3 linked regions of the Homo sapiens genome follow. The protein of the gene in region 2 interacts with the protein of the main gene of each other region in a biochemical or structural test. Each region holds a gene or a part of one and is shown on either strand. Other genes may lie near its edges.

What was found. The genes of interacting proteins can lie anywhere in the genome.
Region 1: the proteins of SMAD3 (region 2) and NEDD9 form a complex in vitro, tested with the Homo sapiens proteins (2 studies listed by BioGRID).
Region 3: the proteins of SMAD3 (region 2) and SMURF2 form a complex in vitro, tested with the Homo sapiens proteins (2 studies listed by BioGRID and IntAct, with this or other methods).

What each region holds. Positions count from the first base shown.
Region 1 is NC_000006.12:11,229,669-11,236,593, forward strand, and holds the start of NEDD9 (enhancer of filamentation 1), read right to left. Parts: upstream 3,001-6,925; 5' UTR 2,848-3,000; coding exon 2,836-2,847; intron 1,043-2,835; exon of another isoform or gene 771-1,042; intron 1-770. UniProt on the Homo sapiens protein: Scaffolding protein which plays a central coordinating role for tyrosine-kinase-based signaling related to cell adhesion. As a focal adhesion protein, plays a role in embryonic fibroblast migration.
Region 2 is NC_000015.10:67,180,602-67,187,601, reverse strand, and holds part of SMAD3 (mothers against decapentaplegic homolog 3), read right to left. Parts: intron 6,362-7,000; coding exon 6,149-6,361; intron 2,876-6,148; coding exon 2,738-2,875; intron 583-2,737; coding exon of another isoform or gene 472-582; intron 238-471; coding exon 93-237; intron 1-92. UniProt on the Homo sapiens protein: Receptor-regulated SMAD (R-SMAD) that is an intracellular signal transducer and transcriptional modulator activated by TGF-beta (transforming growth factor) and activin type 1 receptor kinases.
Region 3 is NC_000017.11:64,652,308-64,659,307, forward strand, and holds part of SMURF2 (E3 ubiquitin-protein ligase SMURF2), read right to left. Parts: intron 1-7,000. UniProt on the Homo sapiens protein: E3 ubiquitin-protein ligase which accepts ubiquitin from an E2 ubiquitin-conjugating enzyme in the form of a thioester and then directly transfers the ubiquitin to targeted substrates.

The DNA of each region.
Region 1 (6,925 bases), on a different chromosome or scaffold from region 2:
TCACATAACCACAGACTGAATCCCTTCTAAGAGAAATGGAAAATTAAGTACGTATGACAGTGACTGCAACCTTCCTGTGGACAAATAAAAACATACAGGGAAATAAAGACAGATTAGATAAGTGCTAACCAGAAATGTCTGTCCGGAGTAATAGCTTACATTCCACAGTTCTCAGGATTACTGCAAGTACCTTGCTGCCTGGCCTGAAGCTATGTATATTAAGTGCAAAATAAGTGAAGGTTTGTTGTTCCGTAGTTGTGATCCCTGGGGCAGCCAAACCAGATAATCAGGTTAACAACGACAATCTTATAGGGCCTGATTCATAAGTCTTTCAGTAAACATTTTAAGGTTTGTGCTAAATTTACAGTGCATAGAGCAACGTAGTATTTTAGAGATAATTCCTGTCTCTGGGATTTTACCATCTAATAATTATCTGGTTTTACTACCTAAGTGGCTCGAATTAAACAAATAACTGCCAAACATGCACTTCATTTTGCTTTGTAGAGTTACTATCTTAAAAAGAAATTATCCTGCAGGAATACTTGGGATGAAATAGTCTTAAACTTTCTGGGAGAAGAAAACACTGGCCATATTTTAGAGAGGTCAACGATAGCTCTTTCTCTTTCTCTTAATAGTGGTTAAAGTCATGAGTTCTGGAGCCAGATCGCCTTAGTTCTAATCCCAGCTCACCACTTTCTAGCTGTGTGGCATTAGATAAATTACTTAGCCTCTCTGTGTCATTTGAAATTGAGTATAAAAATAATACCCACCTTGTAGAGCTATTGGGAGAGTTGAATATGACAATCTTGTGTTGTCACAGTAAGTCTCAATTAATGTTACTTCATTACTTTTGTGTCTCTCCTCTACTTACAATAACAAAATCCTTTCCTGAAGTAAAGTTGTTCATTATTAACTAGAGAGAAAGAAAACTTTATAAAAAAGGAAAGTGGATTTCTTCAGCTATTGGTTGATTTAATAGTCATCATAGGGCATAAGTCATGTGTTCGGTCGGAGAAGTTAGCTTTTTTGCTGGTGAAGGTGCCTACAAGGTAATAAAAATCATGTATTTACATCATTTGGCAAGGTGTTCAACACCAGTAAGGCCCAGTGGAGAAGCAGGTTTCTCCATGAATGCCAATCGCAGTTTACGCTGTCAGTCACTTTATCAGTTGCCTTTAGATTTTCTTTCCATAAAGAGTAAAGCTAACCACGATGAGATCATTGAATAAAAGTGACTTGAGACTTTGTCGCTTTCGTCACTTTCTAGATTATAGCACTCAATGTTAATTTCAGCCATTTATACTTTCCAATAATAGACATATGAACATACTTTCTCTTTTTTCTGCAAGCCAGTTCTTATTCAACAACAGGGAAAGGAGGAGCAAAAAAGTCACTCCAGGCTGAGTAATATCTGGTCCTATCATTGTTCTAAATAAGGAAATATGGGGTGAGCCACTTTAAGGAAGATAACTTTCCTGCCAAGTAGAGGGATTTGTTTCTGGTTGCATCCTAAAGTCAAATATTAATAGTCTTCAGGATGACCCTTTCCTCTGATCTTCCCTACTGATGAAGATAATAGAAAGCTGATGAAACAGAAATAGCTGATACCTGTGTCTTCAGACAGTGGTAACGTAGGCATTACTATAAAGACTTTTGACATTTAGACTTAAAGCTTTTGAATAAGATTCATAGTTTTTGAACAAAAGCTTTATTACTGAGGCTAGTCAGTGGCTATCAGTTAGACCAAGTATTTACAACCTTACATCAAAAAAGGATGGACCAGAAAAATTTAGAAAAAAAGCGAAGTAGCTTCCAGCTAGTGTACAGTTAATATAAATTGTCAATCCACAAGCCTAGCACCCTTGCCCAAATCCATCTTAATAATAACACTTTTGTTTAAAATAGCATAAAATAAAATAGTAGCACTAGCACTCATGTCTATTCATCATTCAAGAAAAATTCATGTCCAATTCATTGCAGTCTGCTTTCTTTGTGTCCCCTGGAAGCTGCTTGCCTCCTTAGATGGGAGTGACTTAAAAGAAAAAGGGGAGGGGGGAATATACGGAGCAAGTCAAAAATCCTTTTGGCAAGAAAAATCCACAAACAATGGTGTAAAATGCATTGGAAAATAATGCTGCTGAAGTACTATGACTATGACACTCTGTAAGCTTTCAGGCACAATGAGCCAGCCTGAGCCTTCGCACTCTCACCCCATTCAAACTCCAATAAAAATGTTTTCAAGAAATGGCTCATACTTATTTATTCCTACATCCAATATAACATAAGGATGTCAAAATTTTCCATCCTCAGCTGTGTAATCTGGGCTTTTAATTTCTCCCACCAAAAGTGCATATGGCATACTCCTTCCGAGACCAAACGATTAAAGCAAAGTCTGGAAAACTTTGCACTAAGAGCCAGTCTGAGACAGACTATGCAGTCCTCATTCCTCTCATTACAGTTCCCCAGGGCAGTGGAAGCCAGGCCTGGGGAAGCCAAGGAGACTTGAGCCAATGCCTGCCGCGATTCAAGTCAGACACCCTCTGATCTCCAGTGGCTGCTGTGAAGCGGCTCCAAGTCTTAACTTCTCACCGAGGTATTTCCCCGGCAACTTTCAGAGCAGATGGACTCGGGTGTACTGTGAACCCCTGGAGTGGGTCTCAAAGACCGGGTCTCTGCTTGCTTGTCTGCTTGCATGTCAACCTCAGTGACCGAGACTCATCTTAGAACTCTCCGGGACACACAAGGGACTGACAGTAAGGAACACGCATACACAAGCACACACCCGCAGGCACAGCTTTCAGCTTGCAAGGTAACCTGTAAAAGGCACTCTCTTACCTTATACTTCATTTCGGCAGCGGTGGGTTGAGCCGTTTTCCTACACTAGTTAAGACAGCATTAAGCACTGCGGTGCCCGCCCCTCCATTGAGTGCAGCGCTAGATGAAAGCGAGAAGGTCCCGGGCAGAGCCGCTTGTCAGTCGCAGCGCCTCCCTCAAGTCTCTGAGCTCACTGTTGTGACTGAGGCAGGCTGATCGCGGACCTCATTTGCATGCCGCCCCGCCATTGGCTAGTGGGACAAGGTAATGCTCAGGCCCTGCCCACCCCTAATTCTGAAAAACTGACAAAGAACTTGTAATGTGATCGCTTCTTTTTGCTTTATCAGACGGTGGAAAATAAAACAGAAAGTGGGGAACCGTCCTGAACCTTACTCTGTCCTCCCGCCCCCGCCAAAAAAGAAGACAGAAAGAGAAAGAACAGGAAAAGGAGATACATTCTTTTTAAGATTAACCCAAATTTTAAAGAAACTGAATTCACAAAAGCAGTCTGACAGTCGCGCTTCCTGTGACCTAGCAACTCCTTCATAAACCCATTTCGTTTCAAAGCCATTCACCTCACAATCTCTACATGAAACGAACTCCGGGAACAAAAGGTTTTCTGTCTCCGGGCCCCTTTTTACTAACCACCCCTGCTGATACCTCTCTCTCTCTCTGTCCCTTTTTCTTTCCCCCTCCTCCCGCCTACTTTTTGTGTGTGTGTGACTGTTTGCTTTTTTTGTTCTTTTCAACGTTCAAAGTACTTTGCGATGTCAGTCTGCAAGGAGCTGGAAGACAATTCTCCCTTAGTGAAAAGGAACCCTCTAGCACACGCACCAGCGTTTTCCTGGACAGCTTCTCACCAGGGCCTCAGAGTTGCGGGTCACACATATTGAGCGACCTTCAGTGGCTTTGCTGAGGATAAAGGTTAGATGTGACCTCTCGGATGGGGTTGGCCAGTGCACGCCCTATACATCATCACCGTCCACTGAGTTCTGTGTTCTTTGACGGCTGGCATTTCTAGCTCCAGCTTTGAACACTGCAGTGTTTTTCCTTCTGACCTCTGTCCTGAGGATGACCCATTAACCCACCAACACTTATTATCCAGGAGAACGAAAATGCCCACTGTTTGATGAGCCTGGTTAAAAAGACCAGTCTCTCTCCAGCGAAGCACAGAACATAATTTCTATAAAGGTTCCATTTTAGGATTTCTATAGAGAAAGAGAATCACCCAGAAAACAGAAATGGTCACCTTCTGCAACTCTTCTCACGGACAGAGCAGTGAGGCGAAAAATTCCTTTTTCCCGGGCAAGACTGAGACTCGGTGAATCCAGACAATAGCTGTCCCTGAGTGGGATGCACTCCAACCAGACTACATGACTTGGATGGAAAAATCAGCCCTTATTTTTTTTTTTCCTGACCAAGTTGGATCAGAATCTGATTCCCTTCGCGTCTAACACACAAATTCCCAATGGATGAAAACTCTACTTTTATGATCTAAGCAAAAGGAATGAGAGAACAGCTGTCCTACAAAAGTGGTTTCCAGATACAGGGTTGGCAGGTTAGTTTGCAGTTCAGTGTGGCACTGATTCCAGGGACATGACCCCCCAGGCCATCCTAATGAGGTTGACATACCTGTTCCAGCCTGTATTAGGCCTTGCTTCTCCTCATTTGTCCTTAGAGCAAAAATAAGCCTGAGTGATTGTGCAAGGCCTTTCTGAACACAAATTAAGCACGCAGCATATTGCATTGTAACGATCTCCTTAAGAATCCTGCAGACTGACCGGAGAGTCGTTAGTTTGCAGGAAATTGTTTTTGGTGTCTACCTGGATAAAGGAGGACAATGATTCAAAGCCCTTCCCATCTGTAAGATGAGTCTTGCGGCCTCCAAGAGATCTAGATAACATTCCTTTGGCTTCCTAAGTGGTCAAGCTGAATCCTTTTTCTGTTTTGTTTGATGAATATCATTGAGTAAGTGAGTGCTGTCCCATCCTATTTTAATGTTTTCAAACAGTTTCCTAAAGTTTGTGCTGGGGTTTTTTTGTAATTTCATTCTCTAGCTAGTGGCCCTCCTGCTTTCCTGTTTCTGTCCTGTAAGGTAAGTAAGACACATGTAATCTACCCGAAGTTCATTTCAAGAAGGCTTGGGTCAGTATATAGTTAGCTGCCTAAAGGAAAGCACAAGGGTGTTGGAATCAGGTAAACCTGTGCTGGAACCTCAAAACATTTTTAATTTTTTTTTTTTTTTTTTTTGAGACAAAGTTTCATTCTTGTTGCCCAGGCTGGAGTGCAGTGGTGCAATATCGGCTCACTGCAATCCCCGCATCTCTGGTTCAAGCAATTCCCTCAGCCTCCCGAGTAGCTGGGATTACATGTGTCTGCCACCATACCTGGCTAATTTTTTGTATTTTTAGTAGAGACGGGGTTTCACCAGATTGGCCAGGCTGGTCTCGAACTCCTGACCTCAGGTGATCTACCTGCTTCAGTCTCCCAAAGTGCTGGGATTACAGGCGTGGGCCACTGTGCCTGGCCAGTTGAACTTCTTAATTTTGATGTCCTTCAGTATGAAATAGAGAAAATAATAATACCTGCTAGCCTCATAATGAGGATTAAATAAGATAATGTGGATAGAATTTAATAGTACTTGTTACATTGTAAGACCTTAAATGGTTGCTTGTTCTTATTACTGTTGTTATTAGTTATTATTTTAATTAATATCAGATTTATGATATTTTGTTAATATTTTATGACATTATTGCTATATTCTATAGATTATTATTTAATTATTGTATTAATTATAACTAGTATTAATATTAGACTACTGTTGATAAGTGTGGTAGGCATTCAGAAGAAGTTGGAGGAACCCCTTCTCTGTGTGCCATTCTTTCATAAGGCAGCTTTCTCACTGAACTGTTATCACTAGAGCACCTAGCATGTGCCAGGTACCTTTCTAGGAGGGGAGGATACAGCAGTAGCCCAGACAAAGTTCCCATCTTCATGGAGCTTACAGTCTAGTGAGAGTTGAGGAAAATAATTAAATGAATGTATAATATGATTTGCAGTGATAAATGCTATGAAGAAAAATTAAGCAGGGAAAATTGCTGGAGGAAAACAGACCAGGGTGGGACAGGAGGTGTATTATTTTAGATAAAGTGGTCAGGGAAGCTCCTCTGAGGAGATGATATTTAAGCAGAAATCTGAATAGTTTCAGGGATCCAGCCACTCAGAGATCTAGGGGATGAGCATTCCGGACAGAAGTGACCCAGGGGAAGGGCCCGCAGTAGGCACGAGCTTAGTGTGTCTAAGCGCAGCAAGCTGTCTAGTGTGCTTAGCGTGGGGTACACAGGGCTGGATGGAGAGGATGAGCTCAGAGAGGTAGGTGGTAGGGAGCTTGGATTTTTTTCCTGAGTGTGACATGAAGCCTCTGCAGTGTTTTGACCAGGGAGTAATCTGTTTCTCTCCGGTTTGTTAAACACTCAAGGACAGCAGGCTACTAGTTAAAATATTGAGCTCTGGTCTTAATGCAGCTTAAATAATGCAGATAGTTGTTACTTTATTAGTGTCATTTAGTATGTTGCCCTTAAAACTCTTCAGGGAAACACAAATTGTCTCAGTGAATACAGAAACAATTCCCTTCCTCATTTATTACTATCAGATGCAAAAATGATGTTTAAACTGGGCTATGTAATTGATTTATGCAGCAGCCCTAGGATTCCCATAGAGACCCTCCTGAAATTGGCTAGAACTCTGGGCCTCCGGTTCCACTTCCTGCACTTGCCAGCACTCCGGTGGGCATCCCCTCCTGTCATCCTTGCCGCCTGCCTGCTCTTCAACCAAGCACTCTTCCTTCCAGATGCTTGTGCAGGCAGGAGTGAGGGAAATGGCACCGGATGCCATTCTAATGATTTTCCAGCTGCAACTGGGCACTGGCATAAATACAGCAAAAAATCAAGAGGAGGCTAGAAAGAAGAAATACTTCTGTTGACAACTTGGAATGAACCCACGTGACTGCTCTCTAAGAGTGAAGGGCAAAGAGTGAAGAGCATGTGAGGGCAGGAAATGACTTTGGAAATCACCTAATCCAGCCACTCATAGAGAGGGCAGAGCTGTCTGT
Region 2 (7,000 bases):
GGCCTAGCTCATCTCTGAGGAGCCCTGCCTGCTCTGCTGTCCAGAGTCACCTGGAGTTGGGTCCCCTGATGTAGGCAGCACCCATAACTGACCTGTACTCCGCTCCCCAGCCTTTGACGAAGCTCATGCGGATGGTGCACATTCGGGTCAACTGGTAGACAGCCTCAAAGCCCTGGTTGACCGACTGGGCCAGGAGGGCAGCGAACTCCTGGTTGTTGAAGATCTTCAGGTTGCATCCTGCCAAAAACACAGAAACAGGGCTGTGGGGATGGAAGTGGCCAGGTCCGTTGCTCCCCTCCTGGATAAAGCAAGTCCTGGACCCCCTAGACCAGCCTCATTTATACAGCTCCAGGGACACATGGTGTGTGATGCATTTGCCACACACTCCACACTCAGTACCATGCAAAGGGAAGGCCAACCCAGTCCCTCCCCTTGAACCCATCTCCTCACTGGGAGGTGCCACTGACATACCTGCAAGGGGAGATGGAAGGCTGGCCCACAAGCTCCGACTCCCAGAGCAGGGAGAAGTCTGCAAAGAGGGCTTCCAAAAATAGGGAGATGGTGTGGAGAGGGGGGCCTTTCCTTGGGCAAAGGGACCAGGGGACAGAGAGATAAGGGACCTGGGCCAGGTTGCCCATGCTGTGTGGGGTCTGGTCACCCACCTAGGAACAGGAGCTCTGGCCGTTCCACAGCAGGCAGTGCCCCCAGAGACGGGCTGGCCGAAAGGCTACTGGGCCTGCCGTCCCCACAGGAAGCTTGGCAGAGGGCCCAGTGCACCCTCCACCTGGGCTCCTCTGATGAATACACCTGGTGCTGGGGCTAGGAGGTAAGGAGAGATCTGGGCCAAATTTTGGCCTCTGGGCACTGGGCTGGGTGGAGGTGACATTCACAGCTAAGTGAAGGTGTGCATCTGATTCTCCAGACAGTAAAACTAAAGACAGTCACAAATAAAGTTTAAAATAAATGTCGTTTGAAGTCTTACTGCCTGAGTGCCAGGAATGTGTCAACCAGAAAAATAAAGACAAAAGCACATGCTGGAAATAGCCAAAAGGTGAGCCGGGGTGACGCTTATGAATGAGCCAACAGCAGGCTCCTGTTCTTGCTGTGTGACTCTGAGCTGGTCGCTTTCTCTTGGGGACCCTGTGTCTCTGTATAATGAAGGGCTGGCCTCAGAGGTCCTTCCAGCTCTGACATTCTATGAGCTGACAAACAACACCACAGCCAACTCAGCCCTCACCCAAAAGATGGGGGTGGGGCCGGGGAATGGAAGAGGCAGAAGGCCAAGAGCGTCACTGAGCTTCCTCTTCTTCATTCTCTCCAAGGACAAGGGTGGTGGAACAGGGCTGAACCTGGGCCCTGACCCCCAGCAGAGCCAAGAAGCAGAAGAGCACCAAACTTGAGAGTCCATCAGCCCTAGGCCCCATCCCGGCTTGGCCACTTACTAGCTGTGTGCGCTTGGGCAGGTGGCTGAAACTCTCTGAACTTGTCTCTCAAAGCGTCTCCTTACTTATAGAGCCAGAGAATAACTGGTGAGGACTAAATGAGGTCAACGATCGGAATGTACTCTATAAATGCAACCACAAAATGCTCTGGAAACCTGGTGTGCTATTATCATTTCAGACTTTCTGCATTCTAAAGTTTCCCCTGCCTGTGGTCTACCACTTCTCCACTACCATCTGCTACTCAGTGGGCAGGAAGGGGCATGCCACACACGTGCCACAGGCAATGGCCTGGCCAGGTTACCTGCTCCACTAGTCTGTCACAGGCCATGTTCTGTGGGCTGCCTACACAGTGGCTGCACGTCCTGTGAAAAGTGGACTTTGGCTGGGGCTTTCTGCCTTGGTTTCCTGAGGAAAGAGGCCTTAGATGGGATCAGCCACCTGCCTGATCTTGCTGTCCAGGCGTGGCCCTGTCCAAACCACTCTCGGGGGTGCAGCCTGACACCTCTTCTTGGGGTACAGGTGGGATTTTTCAGGCTCACTCAGAAAACCCTCAGCAGTTCCCTAGAGTCAAACTCTCTGGTGTCCTTCCACGGCCTCATGCTGTTGTGCTTTTGAAACATTTCCCCTGACGGTCTCATACATGACCCTCCTCCAGCCAGAGAGCTACCCATCCATGTCCTGCCCTCCATTACCTCAGGCCCTTTGCCTGGGCTGCTCCCCCTGTCTAGAATGCCCTCCCTGTGCCTAGTGCCTACCTATCCTTCAGGATCCGGATGTTTCTCCTCCATGAAGACTTCCCTGATCCATCCCAACAGCTAAATGGGCCTTCTCTCTACCTGGGCTGCTGGCTTGGTGCTTGGCACCCGTCCCTTATATTGAACTCATCCGTGTCTTTGTCTTCTGTGCTCTGCAGGCCTGTAAGGTCTGCGGGGGCAGAGCAGGGCCGCATCTACCTCTTCATCCCCTACAGCACCTGGCACAGAGCCCTGCATGCTGTTTGTGCAATGAATGAGTGAAGAAAGGAAGCCATACTGCCTGAGCATCTACGCACAGGGCAACAGGCAGGTACCCACAGGTTAAAGGCAGACCTATCAGATGCTACATCTGCTCCCTGGAAGTTCAGGGAAAGCACAGTTAGATCTGTGGGCATAGAGAAAACCTAATCCAATCACCTCCAGATTGACAACGCAATCATGAGTGAGCAGAAAAGGTGAGAAAGGTGGACTCTCTCCAGCATCCTAGGCATGCACTCGGAGAGGGACCTCAAGGCAGGGGTGCCTGTGCGGCTCGTTTACCTGGTGGGATCTTGCAGACGGTGGCCGGGTGCCAGCCATAGCGCTGGTTACAGTTGGGAGACTGGACAAAAATAGCGCTGTCACTGAGGCACTCTGCGAAGACCTCCCCTCCGATGTAGTAGAGCCGCACGCCTCTTCCTACAGAGATTCAGGTTAGACTGGACAGGGTGCCTTTGCTCACACACAATGGCCCTGGGGCCACCTGAGGCTCGCAAAGGAGGCAGAACAGCAGAGCTGCTCCCAGTGACTGCCAGCTTCCCCAGGCAAACGGGCCCCAAAGCCCAAGCCTAAAGTAGGGGAAATGGGCACTGCCGGATTCCTAAAGCCAAGGGAGGCAGATGACAAGAGATGGGCACACAGGATAGGTCTCAGTGACAGCCTTTGCCACTGAGTAGGCATGGGCCTCAGTCAAGTTATTCACCCTCTGAGTCTTCGTTTGTCTCTACGATAGGGATGGGGGCCAGGCGCGGTGGCTCACACCAATAATCCCAGAGCTTTAGGAGGGCAAGGTGGGAGGATCACTTGAGGCCAGGAGTTCAAGGCCAGCCTGGGCAATGTAATGAGACTTCATCTCTACAAAAACATTTTTTTTTTAATTAACTGGGCATAGTGGCATATCCTTGTAGTCCTAGCTGCTTGGGAGGCTGAGGTGAGTGGATTGCTTGAGCCCAGGGGTTCAAGACTGCCGTGAGCTCCCATCACACCACTGCACTCCAGCCTGGGAGACAGAGTGAGACCCTAACTCCAAAAAAAAAAAAAAAAAGGGAATGATGATAACCTCTACCCTTGCAGGATTACTGTGAGACACACAGTAAGTGCCTGGTGTCAGCTTTTCTTGCTGCTACTGCTACTACTACCCCACTATTATTTGGTCTCTTCACACTCCAAGATTCAGAGATTCATTCAGTAAACCTGCAGGGCTCCTTCTGATGCAGCAGACACCCCAAGGAGCCCTTTATTGCAGGGATGGTTTAACGCTATGCCCTTATTTTTTTCTTCCCTCAATGCATTTTTCTAAAACATTCCAGAGGTTTATATCATTTACTTTTCTTTCATCTCTTAAATCCACTCCAGATGGACAGAAATTATTTTTAAATTGGCTCTGCAACTCAAACAGTTGCGTAAACTCTGACAATGAGCTCTTTGCTCGGCCAGGGGATGGTCCCTTCTCCTGCATGGCAAAGTCTCTGCTCCATTCCTGGGGAAGAAGCTCAGAGGTCAGAACACGGAGCCAGATATTACAGGCCCAGCATCCGGTAGGATGAACACGAGGTGACCGACCCATGCATCACTGGATGTCCCCTGTCCTGCCTCCTATTCCCACTACTGTCCCCTTCCTCCAACCACTCCCCATTTTTTCTGGCTTTAGTTCTGCAGGGTGCTGGTGGCTCAGAGTCCACAGGAGGGATGACTTCCTGGCTGTCCACAACTGTATCATGTCAGTAAGAGCAGAAGGCAGAGGTGGGGATGCGAAGACCCAGACCAAAAATGTTTGTTTCGTTTCAGTAACTTAAAAAAATAGGCCGGGCATGGTGGCTCACACCTGTAATCCCAGTACCTTGGGAGGCTGAGGCGGGCAGATCACCTGAGGTCAGGAGTTCGAGACTAGCCTGGCCAACGTGGTGAATCCCCATATCTACTAAAAATACAAAAAATTAGCCAGGTGTGGTGGCACATGCCTGTAATCCCAGCTACTCAGGAGGCTGAAGCAGGAGAATCACTTGAACCTGGGAGGTGGAGGTTGCAGTGAGCCAAGATTGTGCCATCGCACTCCAGCCTGGGAGACAAGAGCGAGACTTGGTCTCCCCGCTCCAAAAAAAAAAAAAAAAAAAATATATATATATATATATATATATATATATATTTTTTTTTTTTTTTAATAAAATATAGAAAAAAGCCAGTTGCAGTGGTATATGCCTATTGTCCCAGCTAATCAGGAGGCTGAGATGGGAGGATAGCTTGAGCCCAAGAGTTTGCGACTGGGCCTGGGCAACATAGCAAGACCCTATCTCTAAATCAATCAATCAATCAAACAGTGGTATGCCACCCAGAATAAGTATCTTTTTTGAAGTAAAAAACAAAAAGCGAAATGGGAACAACAGGTCTGGTAGTGGTGGCTGTCTGTCACTGACAATGAGGTCTCTGCAGAGCCGTTCCCTACCCTCCCCAACCCCCTAGACATCAGGTCCCTTTCCTAGAAAATGAGAGCACAGACCTAGGCCCATGGCCTCCAAACTTTTCTTCTCTTCACTACAGAATCAATCCTCTCTTCAAATGAAGTCTTCTGTGAGAGCCCGAGATATAAAGCAAGCGAGTGCAGAGGTGCCCTGGTTCACGTGGGACCAGGCTTCCCTTTGCTAACCTGCCCACCTCCTGAGTTTGCCGCAGGAACCCTTTGCCAACCCTTGGGGCTCCAGGACAAGGTCTGAGAAAACCTCACTCTGCCATCTCTCTACAGCCCTTCTAAGTTCTGACAGTTGTGATTCTGGATCGTAAAATCCTCTAAGCTTGATAACTTCATAAGCAAACCAAGTGATGCGTAACACAGCTTCATCTTCCTTAAACTCACAAAGTCATCTTTTACTTATGTTCTGGGGGCTAGAAGGCAGAAGGTTCACAGTAGTGGTGTTTGGATAGTGGACAATTCTTTTCTACCTTTTCTAAATTGTTTAGAATAATGATACATGAAAATAAGAGAAGATCACTCTTCCAACAATGACTGCCTACTTATCAACCTATCCATCTGTACTTTCAGAGTATTTTTATTTAGAGGATTTCAGCCAGGCACGGTGGCTCACGCCTGTAATCCCAGCACTTTGGGAGGCCAAGGCAGGTGGATCACCTGAGGTCAGGAGTTCGAGACCAGCCTGGCCAACATGGAGAAACCCCGTCTCTACTAAAAACACAAAAATTAGCTGGGCGTGGTGGTTGGGTGCCTGTAATCCCAGCTACTTGGGAAGCTGAGGCAGGAGAATCGCTTGAACCCAGGAGGCAGAGGTTGCAGTGAGGCAAGATTGTGCCATTGCACTCCAGCCTGGATAAAGCAAGACTCTGTCTCCAAAAAAAAAAAAAAAATAGATTTCATATGTTGCCTTTCTCATAGACGTTCCCTTCTTGATCCCTTAGATGAACTATTTTCCTCTGTGGCTTCCAGATTTTCTGAGATTATATCTTTGAGTGGGAATGATCAAGTGGCCTGAACACTACCTGTCTGGCCCCTAAACAGGGCAACAGAGAGTGTAGGGGACTTGCTGGGGCAGTGAGTCTTCCCCCATGCCCAGCAGGAGGCAGAGCACAGCTAAGGATGGACGCAAGGTTCCCTTCAGAGGCTGTGTGTTCAGGCCTGGGGCTGGGGGTGGGATAGAGTGGCAGGGGCAGGGTGGGGGGGCGGGGAATGGAGCCACCCCATACCGATGTGTCTCCGTGTCAGCTCCACTGCTGCATTCCTGTTGACATTGGAGAGCAGCCCTAGGCAGAAGCGCTCCGAATTGGAGGGGTCGGTGAAGCCATCCACAGTCATGGATGGCTGCGAGGCGTGGAATGTCTCCCCGACGCGCTGGTTCAGCTCGTAGTAGGAGATGGAGCACCAGAAGGCCGGCTCGCAGTAGGTAACTGGCTGCAGGTCTGTGGACACAGGGTGGGCTACTGGGTCATTGGGTGTCCCAAGCCCCATGCTCCCTCGATGGGGTCCCATGGACACTCTGGAAAACCATTTCCCCGCATTTCAGAGGGATTATAATCTCCCTACCCCATGCCTTTTATCGTATAAAACTGGCAAGAGCCACCAGAACAAGATGCTCAGGTGTCTGGAGGAGATTCCATCAGCCTTGTGTGTAAAGGGCCATTGATTTCTCTTTTTATTTATTTATTTATTTATTTATTTATTTATTTAGCTCATAAAGGCCCTGCCCCGCCTGCTTGGCCTTGACTGGATGGAAGGAGTCTTCAAGGAGGGGCTGGGCCAAACCTGAAGAGGACCAGGGGCCACCCAGTACCTGGATGAACCTGGGACAGCCACTGCGTGTACTCACTGTGGGGCAGGCCACACCTCCTGCACAGTCACCTCTCAGCCTCTGTTGCAAGGTCCCCAGAGTAACCCACATTAATCCCTGCCCCTAAAAGGGCTTTCAGATTTTGGCTCTGCACAGCCTTGGGGGCAAAAACTCCCAGCCTGTGGAGCAGCAGCTTCCAAGCCTGCAGCAGCCGAGTGGGTTCCCAACAGCGCCCCATGTTGGCGCAGTGGACACACCAGGCATCATCTGC
Region 3 (7,000 bases), on a different chromosome or scaffold from region 2:
CCGCTCCAAAGCACTACAAGATCCTAAATCAAAGACTCAATTTGTTTGAAAGCTGCTTTATTTTAAAGCTATAGTAATCAAGACAGCATAGTGTTAAAACAAATAAACTTAAAGGGTAGAATCATAAAGAAAACACAGGAGAGTCCAGAAATAGAATTCTATGTATACTGTCAACTGATTTGTTTGTTTGTTTGTTTTGAGACAGAATCTCGCTCTGTCGCCCAGGCTGGAGTGCAGTGGCACAATCTCAGCTCACTGCAACCTCCACCTCCTGGGTTCAAGTGATTCTCTTGCCTCAGCCTCCCGAGTAGCTGGGATGACAGGCACCTGCCACACACCTGGCTAATTTTTTATTTTTAGTAGAGACGGGGTTTTGCCATGTTGGCCAGGCTGGTCTAGAACTCCTGACCTCATGTGAGCCTCCTGCCTCGGCCTCCCAAAGAATAGGCATGAGCAACCGCACCTGGCCTGTCAACTGATTTTCTACCAAGGTGCCAAGACAATTCAATGGAGGAAACAAAAGTATTTTCAACAAATAGGGCTACAAAAATAGAATATCCATATGAAAAAAAAATCATGACACTTACTTCTCACAGCATATTAAAAAATTAACTTGAAAATAAGTTTAAATGTATGAGTTAAAATTATAAATAATGCAGAAGAAAACACAGAGAAAATCTTTAGAACTCTGGGTTAGAAAAAGACTTAGGACTCAAAAAACATGAACCACAAAAGAAAAACACTGATAAACAGGTTTCATCAGCATTCAAAACTTCTTCTCTTTGGGACATCTTTTGGGGGGCGGTGGGGGAGCTACAGTCCGGGAGAAAATATTTGCAAAGTATATATCTCATAAAAGGCTTATATCCAGAATACATAAAGAATTCTCAAAACTCAATAAGAAAACAATCCAATTTTAAAACATGAACAAAAGATTTGGATATTCACCAAAGATTATATGGACAATAAATAAGTCCATTAAAATGTGCTTAAAACTGTAGGTTATTAAGGAAGTAAAAATTAAAGTACCATGAAATATCTGTACCTACCAATTAGAATGGCTAAAATCAAAGACAGTATCAAGTGCTGACTAGGATGAGGAACTACTGAAACTCATACAATGCTGGTAGAAATGCAAAATGGTACAACTTTGAAAAAAAAAAAATTTTTTTTTTTGAGACAGAGTCACCCACACTAGAATGCAGTGGTGTGAGCACAGCACCGCAGCCTTAACTTCCCAGGCCCAATCAATCCTCCATCAGCTTCTCAGGTAGCTGATACTACAGGCACAGGCCACACCCGACCAATTTCTGTATTTTTTGTAGAGACGGAGTTTTGCCATGTTGCCCAGGCTGGTCTCAAACTCCTGGGCTCAAGCAATCCGCCCAGCAGATTTTTAAAAAGTTAAAATGCATACTTTCTGTATGATGCAACAATCCCACTCATTTACCCAAGGGCAAGAAAAACATGTTCACAAAGAGCCATGTACTCAAATGTTTATTCGTAATGGCCAAAAACTGGAAACAACAAATGTCTGCAGATATTTATAAATGGATAAACAAATTGGTGTACAATGCAGTATTCCTCAGGAATGAAAAGGAACAAAGTACTGATACCCAGCATGAATGGATCTCAAAAGCATTACGCTAAAAGAAGCCTCACCCAAAAGACTGCAGACAGTATGATTCCATTTACTCAAAATCCTAGAAAAGGCAAAATTATAGTGACCGAAAACAGATCAGTGGTTGACAAGTTCTCGGTATTGAAGAAGACAACTGGCTACAAAGAGGTAAGAGAAAATGTTTTGGGAAGAAACTTTTTGGGAAGAAATGGGAAGAACATTGCATGATTGCAATCATCCACGTGGTAATTCCTCCCTAAAAATGAATCATCGAGGTTTATTTAAAAATTTAAACTTTATGTCTGCTACCAATTTTTGTACAAAACCAAACCAAACTGCCAAACTTCAGATTATCTGTTGACACTTTTTAATATAATATCAAATGTGGTTTTAAAAAAGGTAGCCAATGCCATCAGAAGCTATTCTAAAACAGAGTTGGTCTGAAACTATTCTTGTTCAGAAGACTGCTCGTATTTAAAAAATTTTTAATGAAATAAAATTTCTCACTTTGTTCAACTACTTATATGTTGGAGAGAAATCCGAGAGAAAAGAAAAATTTTAAGTGTTAACATTCAACTGTAACAAGTACCAAACACTGACACCTAGAAAACCAGCCATCAGCTGGGTGCGGTGGCTCATGCCTGTAATCCCAGCACTTTGGGAGGCCGAGGCAAGCGGATCACCTGAGGTCAGGAGTTTGAGACCAGCCTGACCAACATGGAGAAACCCCATCTCTACTAAAAATACAGAATTAGCCGGGCGCGGTGGCACATGCCTATAATCCCAGCTATTCAGGAGGCTGAGGCAGGAGAATCGCTTGAACCCAGGAGGCAGAGGTTGCAGTGAGCCGAGATGGCGCCATCGCACTCCAGCCTGGGCAACAAGAGCAAAACTCAGTATCAAAAAATAATAATAATAAATAAATAAATATAGAGATGAGGTCTCACTATGTTGCCCAGGCTGGTCTCGAACTCCTGGGCTCAAGTGATCCTCCCATCTTGGCCTCCCAAAGTGCTGGGATAACAGGCGTGAGTCACCACACCCAGCCAAAATTCTTCTAATCAAGCAAAATACATATAACTGCATTCCTAAATACAAGCAATAACTAGGATTAGAAAACACAACGTAAATCACACAAATATAAATTATCTGAAATTAAATTCAAACACAGGAAGAAAATTATAAAGCTATCCTGAACAATATGGGCCAAAGCTTAAATAAATGTAAAAAACATATCATGTTCCTGGGTGAGAAAACTAAATAAACTTAGATACTTCTTTTTCCCAAAGTAAAGCAATTCTAATGACAATCCCAATGAAATGTCTTTTTTTTTTTTTTTTTTTTTTTTTTGGAGACACAGTTTCACTCTGTCGCCCAGGCTGGAGTGCAGTGGCATGATCTCGCCTGCAACCTCCACCTCCCAGGTTCAAGCGATTCTTGTGACTCAGCCTCCCCAGTAGCTAGGATTACAAGTATGTGCCACCACACTCAACTAATTTTTGTATTATTAGTAGAGACAGGGTTTCACCATGTTGGCCAGGCTGGTCTCAAACTCCTGACCTTAGATGATCCACCATCCTCAGCCTCCCCAAAGTCCAAGGATTACAACCGTGAGCCACCATGCCCGGCCCCAATGAAACTTCTTATTAAACTTAACAAGTTTAATATTTATGTGGAAGAAAAAAATAAGACTACCAAAACAAATGAAAAGAAATTGGGAGGCCAAGGTGGGCAGATCACTTGAGGTCAGGAGTTCGAGACCAATCTGACCAACATGGTGTAAACCCATCTCCACCCAAAAAAAATACAAAAAAAAATTAGCTGGGAGTGGTGGCATGCACCTGTAATCCCAGCTACTAGGGAGGTTGAGGCAGGAGAATCACTTGAACCCAGGGGTCAGAGGCTCCAGTGAGCCAAGATCACGCCACTGTACTCTAGCCTGAGTGACAGAGTGAGACTCCGTCTCTTTAAAAAACTGGCCTAGTGAGAATACTAAACTAAATTATAAAGCTACAATAAAAAAAACAGTATGGCACTGAACAAGAGCTATATCTGACTCTATAACTAATATAACTGAAAAGATACTACATCACTGTGGAAAGGAAGAATTGGTTAATAAATAATGACAAGATGGCTAAATAGCAATTGCAGGGGAAATAGTTTATTAAACCATTTTTTAAAAACATTAAATATAATGTACTTATTTATCAAACTTCTTGGAGAATAAGTTCTTCCAAGTATAGAATAGGAAAAACAAAACAAAAGTTGGACAGATTTTGACTCCTAAGATAACACATTTCTACATGTCCAAACAATGAACAATATTAAAAGACAAATAATTCATCATGGAAATGTTTGTAGCAAATATGACAACAGGTTAATATATTTGTAAGTCTCAGGTAGATCAATAAGAAAAACACTAAGGCTCTAACATAACTAGGACAAGGCCAAACAAGTCAATGAAAATAAATATCATTAGTAAACAGACAGGAAAATATTCTGCTTCACGAATGTTTAAATGGCACATGCCATGAAATTAGCAAAAAATGTAAAATGCAATTAGCTTATACTTATAACAGAATAGTAAAAAGGGACATCTTTATTTACTGCTGCTCTAAATAGGTCCAACTCTTGTAAGAAGCAGCCTAAAGGAAAAATTACTCATGAAACCTTAAAAATATCCACACACTTGAACTCAGTAACACTATTTTTATGGAAGCATCCTAAAAAAAAAGAATCCTTAAAAAAAAAATCAAAGTTACCTACACCAAGATGTTTACAGCAATTATTTGTAATAAAAAATTTGGAAATAAACATTCAAACAAAAAAATCTGAACGATGGTTGCTGTTGAATCTGCTTAACCAGTTATCCTAAAACCAGTCTTCATGGTTCCCATTCCAGTCCATCCTCCATACTGCTCCCAGATTGTGTCTAAACAGCAAATATATTAAAGCTTAAAATCCTGCAATGGTTCCCCCCACCTTAAAAAAAATGAACATCTTGGCAAACTACAGTAAGGTCCAAACTAGGTTGGTCCCTGTCTAGAGCCTCACCTCTTGCCACTCATACCCAATGCATTAGCCATAAAGAACACATGCAGAACTATTCGGAAGTATTTATAGCTCTCCAGCATTCATTAAATAAAATGCCAAAAAGGTCTTAATCCATACTCACACAAGGATGCTGGCTTCATGGCACTTAAAGCATAGGAACAATAAACGCCTACCAGTGGGTTAGGTCTGGTACTAGAAGAGCTTCTTAGAGTCATAGAGGACAGTTCAACTCAGGTCAGGGAAAGTTCTAGGGATAACAGTAATCTTTGAGTTGAGCCTTAAAAGATGGGCAAGTATTGCTAGGGGCGAGGGCATTCATAATTATACTGAGTCATGAATAAAACATTAAGTTCTACTAAGTATGGTCTATTTGAAAAGAGGAGGACATATTACGTCTTTAAGACTCTCACCAAAAAAGGCTCAAATAGGCCAGGCATGGTGGCTCACACCTGTAATCCCAGCACTTTGGAAGGCTGAGGCAGGAGGATCTCCTGAGCACAGAAGTTCAAGACCAGCCTGGGCAACCTGGAGAAACCCCATCTGTACTGGAAAAAAAAAAAAAAGGTAAAAAAATCAGCCAGTCACAGTGGCATGGACCTGTAGTCCCAGCCAGTTGGGAAGCCAAGGTGGGAAAATCACCTGAGCCGGGAGGTCAAGGCTGCAGTAAGCCGGGATTGCTCACTGCACGCTGTTGCCACTGCACTCCAGTGTGGGCAACAGAATGAGATTCTGCCTCAAAAAAAAAAAAGGCTAAAATAAAAATCTTGTATGCCTAAGCATGACCCTTCATTTATCTTTAAAACTGAGTTATGTTAAATGAGATGTTAGTATGTTGTGATAGTAATAGCTCAACCAACAAGAAAAAAGTAAAAGTGATGACTAAAATACACAGACTTTATTACGAATACCAAACTACAAAAAGGACCTTGGCATGTTCTACTGCCTGCCTGAAGAGGGTCAGACTAGAAGACAGAATTTAAAAGAAAAGGAAGGAGCTCAACTACACTGGCTTCCTCCTCAGAAACCAAGAAAATAAAACAAATTGGGGACATTCAAATCACTAACACCTCTAGTATATAAAGTCATTATGGGCCGGGTGCCGTGGCTCATGCCTGTAATCCCAGCACACTGGAAGGCTAAGGCGGGCGGATCACCTGAGGTCCAGAGTTTGAGACCAGCCTGGCCAACGTGGCAAAACCCGTCTCTACTAAAAATACAAAAAAAACCAGCCAGGCGTGGTGGTGGGCGCCTGTAATCCCACCTACTCGGGAGGCTGAGGCAGGAGAATCACTTGAACCCGGGAGGTGGAGGTTGCAGTGGGCCGAGATCAAGCCCTTCAACTCCAGTCAAGAGTGAAACTCCAACTCAAAAAATAAATAAATAAAGTCATTATGATGTATAGGCATACTTAAAAACCTGTGAAATAGAATTAAGCTACAATTTTTAAAGCCTTGAATCGATAAAATATGTAGTGAAACAAGATTAAGACGCTAGCATATCTAAAGGGAAATTTTTAAAGTTAAACTTCCTTACATTATAGACAAGGTTAACCTCCTTATTGCCAAGGGCTTTGAAATTAATAACATGAGAAGCAGCATACAAAAACATTAAATGTATAAAAAGGTCTGAAACAAATGTTCTGGAGGAGTAATCTTATTCTGCTTCTCCATACCTAAGAATTTAAAATATTAGAAATTACACTAAACTGCTTTTTCCAGCCTTTGGTTTTCAGAAACAATAATGGTATAAAAAATTATCCCAAAGTTTTTACTGTAAAGAATATTTTTCTATCCAAACCATTGAAAGAAAAGCCTGTATCAGATATAAGTATAATGATATAGACATTATACATTTTGTAATCAATGTTATAGAAACAGTAGTTGAAGTTGATAGTGTTACCATACAGCCCATTTCAATGATCATATGTTAATGTGTCATAAAGAACAGAAGTAGCTTGATGGATGAAATCAGATTCTAACCCCCAACTGCCTGAGGAATCTAAAATTTGGGATCAAATTATTAAATTAGCCCCACCTTCTTAGCATTGACAAATACCAAACAGTTCACTGATTGTGGTTTTAAGAATAATATGTGGAAAGGTTTAATATCAATTGTGGGCAGAGATCTCATGGCTTAAATATTTCCTCTTCTTCAGAGAGAGTGTGTATGAGTGTGTGAGTGTGTGTGTGTGAGTGTGTGCATCACCATGTAAGAAATGTTTATACCTTTCAGCAAAGGGGCAATTCCACAATAAAGTTATTATCAAGTAACTAAAGTTTATACAGCATCTTGAAATCAAAGGTACTCTATAAATTTAAAATACTA